Regions from separate parts of the Homo sapiens genome. Here region 2 is linked to region 1. A link means that fine-mapping ties the variant in region 1 to the expression of a gene that starts in the linked region. Tissue or cell type: whole blood. Region 1 holds a variant in brackets; the other region holds the start of a gene. All regions are shown on one strand. Distances are between the middles of the regions.

What was found. PIP is the estimated chance that this variant, and not a neighbour inherited with it, causes the effect.
Region 2: PAK1 starts here. The variant in region 1 is fine-mapped to the expression of PAK1 in whole blood (TOPMed, PIP 0.99).

The regions. Positions count from the first base shown.
Region 1 is chr11:77,538,108-77,543,785 of GRCh38, reverse strand. LOC124902722 (a long non-coding RNA gene) reads left to right here and starts at 479. Exons shown (of 3, transcript XR_007062794.1): 1 at 479-513; 2 at 3,738-3,845. The variant T/C (reference allele first, on the strand shown) is at 3,331.
Region 2 is chr11:77,471,646-77,476,645 of GRCh38, reverse strand. PAK1 (p21 (RAC1) activated kinase 1) reads left to right here and starts at 2,552. Exons shown (of 15, transcript NM_002576.5): 1 at 2,552-3,094. RefSeq lists silencers at 2,318-2,677, 2,908-2,957, 2,978-3,287 and an enhancer at 2,528-3,444.

The sequences.
Region 1 (5,678 bases):
CTCTATCGCCCAGGCTAGAGTGCAGTACAACCTCCGCCTCCCGGGTTCAAATGATTTTCCTGCCACAGCCTTCTGAGTAGCTGGGATTACAGGTGCATGTCATCATGCCCAGCTAATTTTTGTATTTTTAGTAGAGACGGGGTTTCACCATGTTGGCCAGGCTGGTCTTGAACTCCTGACCTCCAGTGATCTGCCTGCCTTGGCCTCCCAAAGTGTGGGGATTACAGGCGTGAGCCACTGTGCCTGGCCAGTGCCTACTATTTCTGGCAGTGAGTCAAGCAGTGGAGACCACGGTTTTGTGTTTTTTTGCTGTTGTTTTTGTCATTGCTTTTTTGTGCAATCTTAAATGTGTTTCTTCTTTTTTTTTGAGATGGAGTTTCGCTGTTGTTGCCAAGACTGGAGTTCAATGGTGCGACCTCAGCTCACTGCAACCTCCGCCTCCCAGGTTCAAGTGATTCTCCTGCCACAGCCTCCCGAGTAGCTGGGATTACAGGCATGCACCACCACGCCCGGGTAATTTTTTGTATTTTTAGTACAAAAATAGAGACCGTGCCCGGCTTAAATGTGTTTCTTTCTGCAATCTCCTCTTCTACAGCTTAAAGGCTGCCAGAGGCAGCAGGAGAGAGAAACTGGGATGTGACCAAGGTTAGAGGTTTTTTCCCCCAGTCAGTACTGTAAGGTCATGCTTATCTCTAAGGCTTGTACTTAAAAGAGTATTTCAGGCCGGGCACGGTGGCTCACGTTTGTAATCCCAGCACTTTGGGAGGCCAAGATGGGCGGATCACCTGAGGGCAGGAGCTTGAGACCAGCCTGGCCAAAATGGTGAAATCCCATCTCTACTAAAAATACAAAAATTAGCCAGGTGTTGTGGCGGGCACCTGTAATCCCAGCTACTCAGGAGGCGGAGGCACGAGAATCGCTTGAACCTGGGAGGTAGAGGTTGCAATTAGCCGAGATTGCGCCTAGACAACAAGAGCGAGACTGCATCTCAAAAAAAAAAAAAAAAAAAAAAAAAGAAAGACAGTATTTCTTGACCTATGGTCGGGGAGCTACTATGGGCCACTCTTCTGACGGTCAGCAGAGGCCTACGAGGCCTCCTGAAGGGCTGGGCCTCTCCAGTTCTTGATCTGCAAATCCATTTTCCCTTTGTTTTAGCTAAGAGGTGGGATAGGAGAGAAGACAAAACATGGGGTATGTTCATGCAGAAGTGATTCATCAAAGTAGAAGAAATATTAAGAAATTTCCAACAAATGATAGAATGTTCTCATTCATCTTAAAATAAGCAGGATTCATCTCTGGGATGATTCATGCTGAGCACTGCAGCCAAATGGAACTGCTGTGGGCAGTAGATATTTATGGATTTAACATTCAAGGCTTTTACCATTCCTGAGTAAACGGTGGTCATGTTCATTTTTCTGAGACCTAAATCTGAATCCTGCACACTAGGACATGGACATGAAAAGGCAGGCTGGTGGGCTCTGCTCTTTAACATGTGAGGATGCAATGAGAGGTCAGCGGCCTGCAACCCAGAAGTCCCTCACCAGAACCTGACCCTGCAACACCCTGATCTCAGACTTCCCAGCTTCCAGAACTGGGAGAAATCAATTTCTAGTGTTACTTAAAAAAAGCAAGTCACATAGTTAGTTGCTAAGTTAGCCCAGCTAATGGTCCATCCTTTACAGCACGTGTAGCTTGGTAGCTATATACTCAGCATCATGTGTGCACTTTATGAGAAAAATTTCTTGATATAGTGGTACATAGGAACATTTAGGGTTCTAAAAGTACTTTGGATATATCCTTCAAAACTGTCAAAGTCTATCATTCTTCAATTCTACTCTGTTATTTCCTGCTTCCATGTCTTTGGATTTACTCTTATATCTGCCCAGCCTCCCCCCATATCCAACTATTAAAATTATGTTTAAGAAGCATGTCACCTCTCTCAATTAAGTTTTTCTTAATTATTTTTCACTAGCATAATCTCTCCCTGCTTAGGACCTCCTTAGAATTTTGTTTGTATCTTCTTTATGGCTTTTGTTTTATCCAATCTTGTATTAGGGTTCACTGGAGAAACAGAACCAACAGAATATATTTAGCTACATAAGAGGGGATTTATTATGGGAATTGACTCACGCAATTATAGAGGCTGAGAAGGCCCATGATATGCTGTCTTCGAGCTGAAGAACCAGGAGAGCAGGTGGTTAATTCAGTCTGAGTTTGAAGGCCTGAGAACCAGGGAAGCTGATGGTGTTACTCTAAGTCCGAGGCCAAAGGCTGAGAAACTGGGAGGCCACTGGTGTAAGTCCCAGAGGCCAAAGGCTGAGAAATTGGGAGGCCACTGGTGTAAGTCCCAGAGTCCAAAGGCAGAGAATCTGGAGCTCTGATATCCTAGAGCAAGAGAGAGGGTTGGTGTCCCAGAAAGAGACAGCATATGCACCCTTCCTCTGATTTTTTGTTCTATCCAGGACCTCACCAGATGTGATGACGCTTGCTCACATTGGTGAGGGGATCTTCTTTACTCAGTCTACTGATTGGAATGCTGATCTCTGCTGGAAACACCCTCACAGACACACCCAGTAATCATGTTTTACCAGTGATCTGGGTATCTCTTAACCCAATCAAGCTGACACATAAAATTAACCATCACGGACCTTCAATGATAATAATCAGTGTGCTCTATTTTATTTCTAACTCTGAGATTATAGTCATCTTTAGGTTACCAGTGGATCTTATTCATCTGAGAAGGGTCCCTATGTCCCCAACCACCCTACTTTCACAGAGCCCCCACATGACAGGGGCAAATAAATATTTGTTAAGTTGAATTGGGTTAAAGGCTGGTTCTGTTGTAGCAAAGTAAATAGACATCTTTGGATGATAGTTTTTGCTGGATGTTACTAGTACTTTTGATAGTCATCTATAAATAAAATGATATTGCTATGTTCTTTGGATAACCTGACCTAGGGAATACAGCAAATATGTGAGTCTGAGCCGGATCAATAGTTGCTCTAACATGGATGTTTAATATTCCTTTCATCTTCTAATTTGACAATTCTCTACCTTGTCCAACTCTGCCTTTCTCAAATCTAATTCCTATTCACTCTGTTATGGTACCCTCCTTTTTATTCCCTTTCTCATTACATCGTATTGAAACGTCAGAAAAATAGAACACTTGCTCTTGAGAGCCTATTGGCTCAAGTAGTCTAAATGGAGAGTGAATTTAAATGTTCTTTCTTATAGCAACATTTTAACCAAAGCCTGTATCAGCTTTAGAGGCACCTTCTAAACAATTTTGGGACCTGTTTCCTTTCCCTCCCCGAAATCCACTTTTTTTCC[T/C]TTCCTTCACAGGGAAGGGAATTTCTTGAAAATATTGTCTACATTGTCTTTCTCTGTATCTTACATCCTATTCAACTTATAGCTTATCTCGCTAACTGTGTCTTAGCCCAGGTTCTCTAGATTGCAGAGCCTGGGGTCAGGATTCAGGTGCTGATTCTCTTTCTGGGAGCTTAGAAAGGGAAAAATGAAGACAAGTCAGTGGAGGCAGGATGATGTGTTACAATGTTGGTCCCTGCTTCCAGCAAGCCATGATGAGAAACGGCAGGTGACTTAGCAGGTAGTGTCCTTCAGCCGTGGGAGTTCTCTGGCATGGCTGCAAGGAGCAATCACACCTTAAAATGGAAGGGAACAATGAGAAAAACGTATCTGTTTGCCTCACTTCTGTCTCCTATTTCCCATTTGTCAAGGTTTGCCCCACAAGAAGATAATTCCCTTCCACTTCTGCTGTGTAACTTCCATGGTGCATCATCTGGTCCATTGGCACCAGCTCAGGAAGCAAGATTTCATGCCTTGTGGTAGGTATGGCAAATGTTTCATTCTATCTGAAAGTGGAGGAGTAATTTTATGCAGAAGGGAGCATGTGTAGGCCATGCAGGTCTAGGACTTCAGTTCTGACTTCAGGCAACTCAGGGAAGTCAGCAGAGGTCCAGAGTAGTGGGAGGCGAGTGGTGCCTTTGGAGAGAAGGAAGTAGTTGAAGGAATGTGACAGGGAGCACGAGGTTATGCCCGATACACAACACAGGCAGAATTCACCCTCACCTTTCTACTGAAATTGCTTTTGCTGAGGTCATCAAAGAGGTCTTGGCAAATCCAGAGGACCCTTTCTAGTCCTTGTCTTACTGGACAGCTTTGCTCCATCTGACACAGCTGGCCATGTTCTACCCAAAACTCTGTCCTCCTTTTGTTTTCCTGATTCACAGAATAGGTTCTATTCCTACCTCTCTGGCAGTGTCTTCTTAAGGACGGCTTCCTTCTTCCATCTCTTAAAACTGGCTATTCTCTGTGGTTCCATTTTCAGCCTTCTTTCTTGTATCCTCACTCTCCACATTTAGCTGTCTTCTATGCGCTGATCATTGCCAAATCAGTATCTGAGGCCCAAATCTCTCTGCTCCAGGTCTATGTGTATAACTGTTTACATGTCTCTACCTGGATGTTCACCTCAGGATGTCAAATATAACAATGCTAAAATTGATTCATCCTCTATACTGCCCCCACCAACCCCCACCAAACCTGCTTTTCTTCCTGTGACCCTGTCTTGGTAAATATCACAAAAACAAGAACTGGGCAGTTCTCTTGAACTCCTGTCTTTCCTTCACATCTCACATTCAATAAGTCACTATTTTTTTTTTTTTGAGATGGAGTCTTGCTGTGTTGCCCAGGCTGGAGTGAAGTGGCACAATCTTGGCTCACTGCAGCCTCCGTCTCCCAGGTTCAAGTGATTCTCCTGTCTCAGCTTCCCAAGTAGCTGGGATTACAGGTGCCCACCACCACCCCTGGCTAATGTTTTGTATTATTAGTAGAGACAGGGTTTCACCATGTTGGCCAGGTTGGTCTCAAACTCCTGACCTCAGGTGATCCACTTGTCTTGGCCTCCCAAAGTGCTGGAATTACAGGCATGAGCCACTGTGCCTGGCCAACAAATTTTTAACTTTACATTATTGTGGACTATAGGTTCAATGCTGTACAACAGATCTCTACACTTACTTATCTTGCTTGACTGAAATTTTATGCCTCGGGGTTATTAATTCTTAATTTCCCTCTCCTCCAGTCGTTGGTAACCACCATTTCACTCTTTGATTCTATGAATTGGACTAGGCAGAATTGTGCCATATTTGTCTTTCTGTACCTGGCTTGTTTCACTTAGCATAATGTCCTCATTGTTCATTCATGTTGTCACATATTGTAGAATGTCCTCCTTTTTAAAGGCTGAATAGTATTCTATTGTCTGTATGTACCATCATTTTCTTTATCTGTTCATCTGTTGATGGACATTTAGATTGTTTGTACATCTTGGCTGTTGTGAATGGTGCTGCAGTAAACATGGGAATGCTAGTATTTCTTTAAGATCCTAATCTCAATTCTTTTTAAACATCCAGAAGTGGAATTGCTCAGTCAAATGGCAGTTCTATTTTTAATTTTTTGAAGAAATTTCATTCTGTTTTCCATAGCAGCTGACCATTTTGCATTCTCACCAATGGTGTGCAAGGGTTCCCTTTTCTCCACATCTTTACCAATAATTGTTATCTTTTGTCTTTTTGATAATGGCTATCCTGGCAGGTGGGAGGTGATAGCTCATTGTGGTTTTGATTTGCATTTCCCTGATGATTAGCGATGCTGTTTAGCATTTT
Region 2 (5,000 bases), 67 kb after region 1:
AGTGGGCTAAAATTAAGGTATCATCAGGATACCATCTCTTCCTTTCCAGAGGCTCCAAGGGAGGATCCATTTTCTTGCCTTTTCCATTTTCCAGTCTGCTCCCAAAAGCTGGAGAGTCCCTTTCCCCAAATCCTCAATTTACTCACATCTGCAGAGTCCTTTTGTCATGGAAGGTAACATATTCATAGTTCCCAGGGATTGGAATGTGAACATTCCATTGGATGAGCCATTATTCTGCCTAGTGCAGAGATCACGAAAAGACAATCCAGATTAGAGTCAATTTACTGGGTTAGGATCCTGGGTTAAGTTACTTAACCCCTCTGTGCCTCAGTTCCCGCATCAATAAGATGGGTGAGGATAACAACAGTATCTACCGTAGAGGGTAGAGGTTTAAAGACAGTGTTTGTAAAGTGCTCAGAACAGTACCTGGCACATAGAAAGAACAATAGGAACATTTATTAAATACATTTTTTTTGAGACAGAGTTTTGCTCTTGTCACCCAGGCTGGAGTGTGGTGGTGCAATCACAGCTTCCTACAACCACCGCCTCCTGGGTTTAAGCAATTCTCCTGCCTCAGCCTCCTGAGTAGCTGGGATTACAGGTGCCTGCCACTACGCCCGGCTAATTTTTGTATTTTAGTAGAGATGGGGTTTCGCCATATTGGCCAGGCTGGTCTCAAACTTCTGACCTCAGGTGATCTGGCTGCCTTGGCCTCCCAAGTGCTGGGATTACAGGCGTGAGCCACCGCGCCTGGCCTTATTAAATATATTTTAACAACATATTGATACTTAGGTATATGTCAAGCACTGTTTTAGGTGCTGAGGATATGGAAAGGAATATGACTTGGAACTCAAGAAATTAGATACACAAATGCAGTTACTTCCATAAAAGGCATAGAAATACTATAGAATTACAGTTTTGTTAAGGCTTAGGGAAACTTTAGAAATATTAGTCAAATGAATATGAATATGAATATGAATGACATTTGAGCTCAGCTTTGTACAATGAATAGGTGTTGGCCAGTCAGCTAAGTAGGGAAGAGCTTGAAGACATGAAGAAATGTGTATTCAAATAACGTTAATATTTCAGTGTGCTTGGAGCAAAAAATAAATGATGTGAGACAAAGCTAGAAAGGCTAGTGTAAGCAGTCAGGTAATAAAGTGCCAAGTTCAGGAGTTTGAACTTTATCCTGAAAGCAATAAAATCCTTTCGGTGTTTAAACGGGAGGACATCATCAGATTTGTGCTTTTATAAGGCTACTCAGGTAACTAGTGAGAAAAATAGATTGAGTTTGAAGAGACTAAAGGTTGCTCCAGTTGTTCAGGTGGTGGTAGTAGAAGACGACACAGGCAAGGACTTGAAAAATATTTAGGAGAAGCTACAAGACTTGGTGTCCAACTTGATATGGATGTTGAGAGAGGAAGAACGGGGAGCTATTAGTATGTCTAGGTTCCTGGCTTAGGGGATTGTTGAATGGGTGGCCCATTCATTGAGAACGGAAAGGAACGTAAGAAGCAATTTTGGGGGGGAAATAATAATAATAGCCAACATTCTAAAGGGCTTGTTACTATTACCATGGTAAAACTGAGGCTTAGGAAGACCTAGTTAAGGTACTACTTATTATTACAGAAAAATTACGGCTTAGAAATGTCAAGGTCCTATCACTAATATTTGAATAGCTAGGATTTCAAGCAAGGCAACCTGATTCCGGACTCTTAGCCTTTCTAATGCTGTCTCAGTTTCGCACATGTTGAATCTGAGGTACGAAGAGTATGCAGGTAATGCTGCTCGGGAGGTATTGGGAAATACACAATCTGAGCTCAGGAGAAAGAAAGCTTTGGGTCGAAAGTACCCTCCACGGTAGGGGAAAAAACGTGAAAGGAAGCCCATTCTTTTCGTATGTCAGTTCACATTAGTTCAAACATCTCCGTTATAATTTCTTTGTCTTCCTCCCACCCCTGCCCCCTCTCCCACAGAAAGAAAACATAATACATGTCTGGCTGTGAGATCACACGACATCGGATAGTTTTCAAATTCAGCCCTTGACAACGAGCTCATAGATGCGGTGGTGCTTTGTTAACCTGAAAAGGACCCTCAGCGCCGGAAGTTAGCCGTCTTTCTCCATCCTGACTACTACAGTAGCCCTCCCAGAAATCGTCCCAAAATTGTCTGATAGAAAGGCTGCACGGAAACAACCCGCCACGGACAGCGGACCGAGAACAGTGACGCGACGCGATGACGTCACGCAGCAAGCGGGTGATTCCCCAGCCTCTGGCGTCACGCGCCGATGACGTAATCCCAGGCGTTCGCCCTCATGCGGGCCAGGGTTTGGCCTCGCTCCCACGGGTCGGTCAGGCCCTCCCCGCCCCCTCTCACCTGCGGGAGGCGGGGCGGGCACGGCTCCACCGGAGCCGCAGCCGCCGCCGCCGCGCCGGGGAGGGGGAGTGGGGGAGGGGGAGGGGGAGAAGGGGAAAGGGCAGAGGGGAGGAGGAGGCGGGAGGAGGAGGAGTAGGGGAGCCAGTGAACTAGGCGGTCAGGCCTGCCGGGCGGCGTACAATAGCGCGGCTGTGGGCGGGGGAGGCTGCCCTCCCGCGGCTGCAGCCGGAGCCGAAGGTGGTGGCTGCACAGTAGACGCCCCCTCACGGCTTCCCCCACACGCTCCCGCCCCCTCGCTCGCCCATCGCGCTTCCCTCACAGGCTCTGCAGTCCTCCCCCACAGACGCCTTCCCCCTTGGACTCTCATTCCCTTTTCCACGGAGCCCCGCGCTTTCGTGAGCCCCCTCGAGGAACCTGGTCTCCGCATCCAGTTACCACCTCCTGCCTCAGAGGCCATCTGAGCCCTTCGCACCTCGCCCCTCAGTCCCCCCTTCCCCCCCCGCCCGCGTCGCCTCGCTCCCTCCCGCCCCCCCATCATCCCTTCCCTCGCAGTTCCCCTGTCCTGAGGGGAGCCCCGCCACGGGCAGCGCGGCGGCGGCGGCAGGAGGGAGAAAGTGAAGCGGTAGCTCGCGCACACTCGCGCCCTCACTCCCGGCTAGGCGGCACCCACCGCCGGGAGGAGGAGGAGGAGCCGAGAGGAGCTGAGCGAGCGCGGAAGGTGAGAGCGGGCCTACCGCCCAGTACCCCTCGCGTCCCGGGCTGCCAGGGCTGGGGCGCGGGGGTGGGGACGGGTGGAGTGGGGGTCTGGGCCCATTTATTTCGCGTTGCGGGGCCGGGCGCCTGGGCGGGAGGAGGCGCCAGGTAAGGTGAGGCGGGCGGCGCCCCGCGAGGCCCGCTCCCGTCGGGCCAACAAAGGCCCCCTGTGCGCGTACCGGCGGGGTCGCGGGTCTCAGACGCCGGGCGATTCGAGAGACCTGGGAGAGGGAAGGGGCGGGGCGGGGCCAGGCCAGGCTGGAGCCGGGAGGCCACACGAGTACCGGTCCGGGACCGAGTCCGTCCCGAACTTCGCAGTCCTGCGGCGCTCACCCTGTCCCGCTACGAGGAGGCACAGCAAAGCGGCGCCCAGTTCCTTCTGCATGGAATAAATGACCCCTTCCAGGCTTGGACAGTCACCTTTAGGGTTCTACTCCCTGAAAAATAAGGGCTGGTAGGACTTGACTTACGCAGCCCCTCCCCCACCCCGGAATATTCTGTAACTTGGGAAGTGAAAAACAACCGGGGAAGGAGATTTATAGTTATTTTATGTTCATTATTACGTTTGAAAAGACATGATTGTTGTAGCCTTCGCTATCCTATTTCAGCAGTACACATTACTGGGAGTGTTTTGGAAGAATACTTGAGAAGTAGTGGGTGTGGCGTTGTGAGCAACGTCCTTGGTTTTTAAACCCCTTGGATAATTGTTCTACTGTTACAAAAACTGTGAACAGTGAAGGGAAGGGTTAGTTCCGTGGTTACTAATAAAAATTCAGATTCATTAGTCTTGACTTTAAGAATTGTTCCTGAGAACAATCTTTAATTTTGCCTCCTACATTTTTGGGTTCTCTTTCAACTCTGTCAGGAGAAAGTAGGAATTATCAGTACAGATACCTCATCTCTCTTACCCTGTGGCTTCATCTACTTCTTGTGTGACCTTGAGCAGGTCACTTCCAGCCTTAAAAGCTCCAGAAGTTTGGTTTTATGCCCCAAAACGGGCAAGTAGCAAGCACCGGACTCAGCTTTCAAGAGTCCACTGAAGAATTCCCACACTGTGAAGTCTTTGCTGGCCTCCATCCTGTCTCTCCTCTTACAGACAGAGCTGATTTCTTCCCATTGGCCCGGTGGGATTTCTACCACAGCACTTACAACATTTTGGTTCCTATTTGGAAAATTCTAAGTCAGGTGCATATAAAAACTCCCCACCTCAACTAGAAACTATGCCTTTCAAAAAGGGTTTTGGGAACATTGACCCTGAAAACTTCCCATACTTTCCCTGAAGCTTATCCATACTCTTTAACTACATGAGCTCATGGGTCTACCTTGGTAAATTTGCTTATTCAGTCAATTCGTTTATCCAACATTACTGGAGTTCGGAGAGCTACTATGTTTCAGGCCTCTTGCTAAGGCTATGGGGATTCAGTCTATTAAGATATTCCCTGTCTTCAAAGAGCTCAAAGTCTAATGGGTGAGGTAGACAAGTAAACAATGAAGGTCTGCCCTAATCTCTGGGGGACTCCAGTTGTACAGGTAGTAGTGTGCAATAATTGAGGCTGCTGGACCTGTTTTACAAGTCTTCTCTTGGCCAAAGTGAGTCCTGCAGGGAAGGTGACCTGCCTCATCCATAACAGGGCATTTGGTAAAAAGCTTGTTCAGTTCAATTCAATATACATTTACTAAGCACATGTTTTGAGTCCCTGTGCTAGGTTTGAAGGAAGCAGTGCCTCAAAGGAAGGTACTGTGCATCCAGAAAGATTTCTGTAAAACAAAACCTTACCACATCAGCGCCCCCTACCCCTGACTCTTCATATTCTGAAGATAAATTTCAGAGTAACATGGAATAAAAAGCTCTCAGGGATCAGACCACTGCC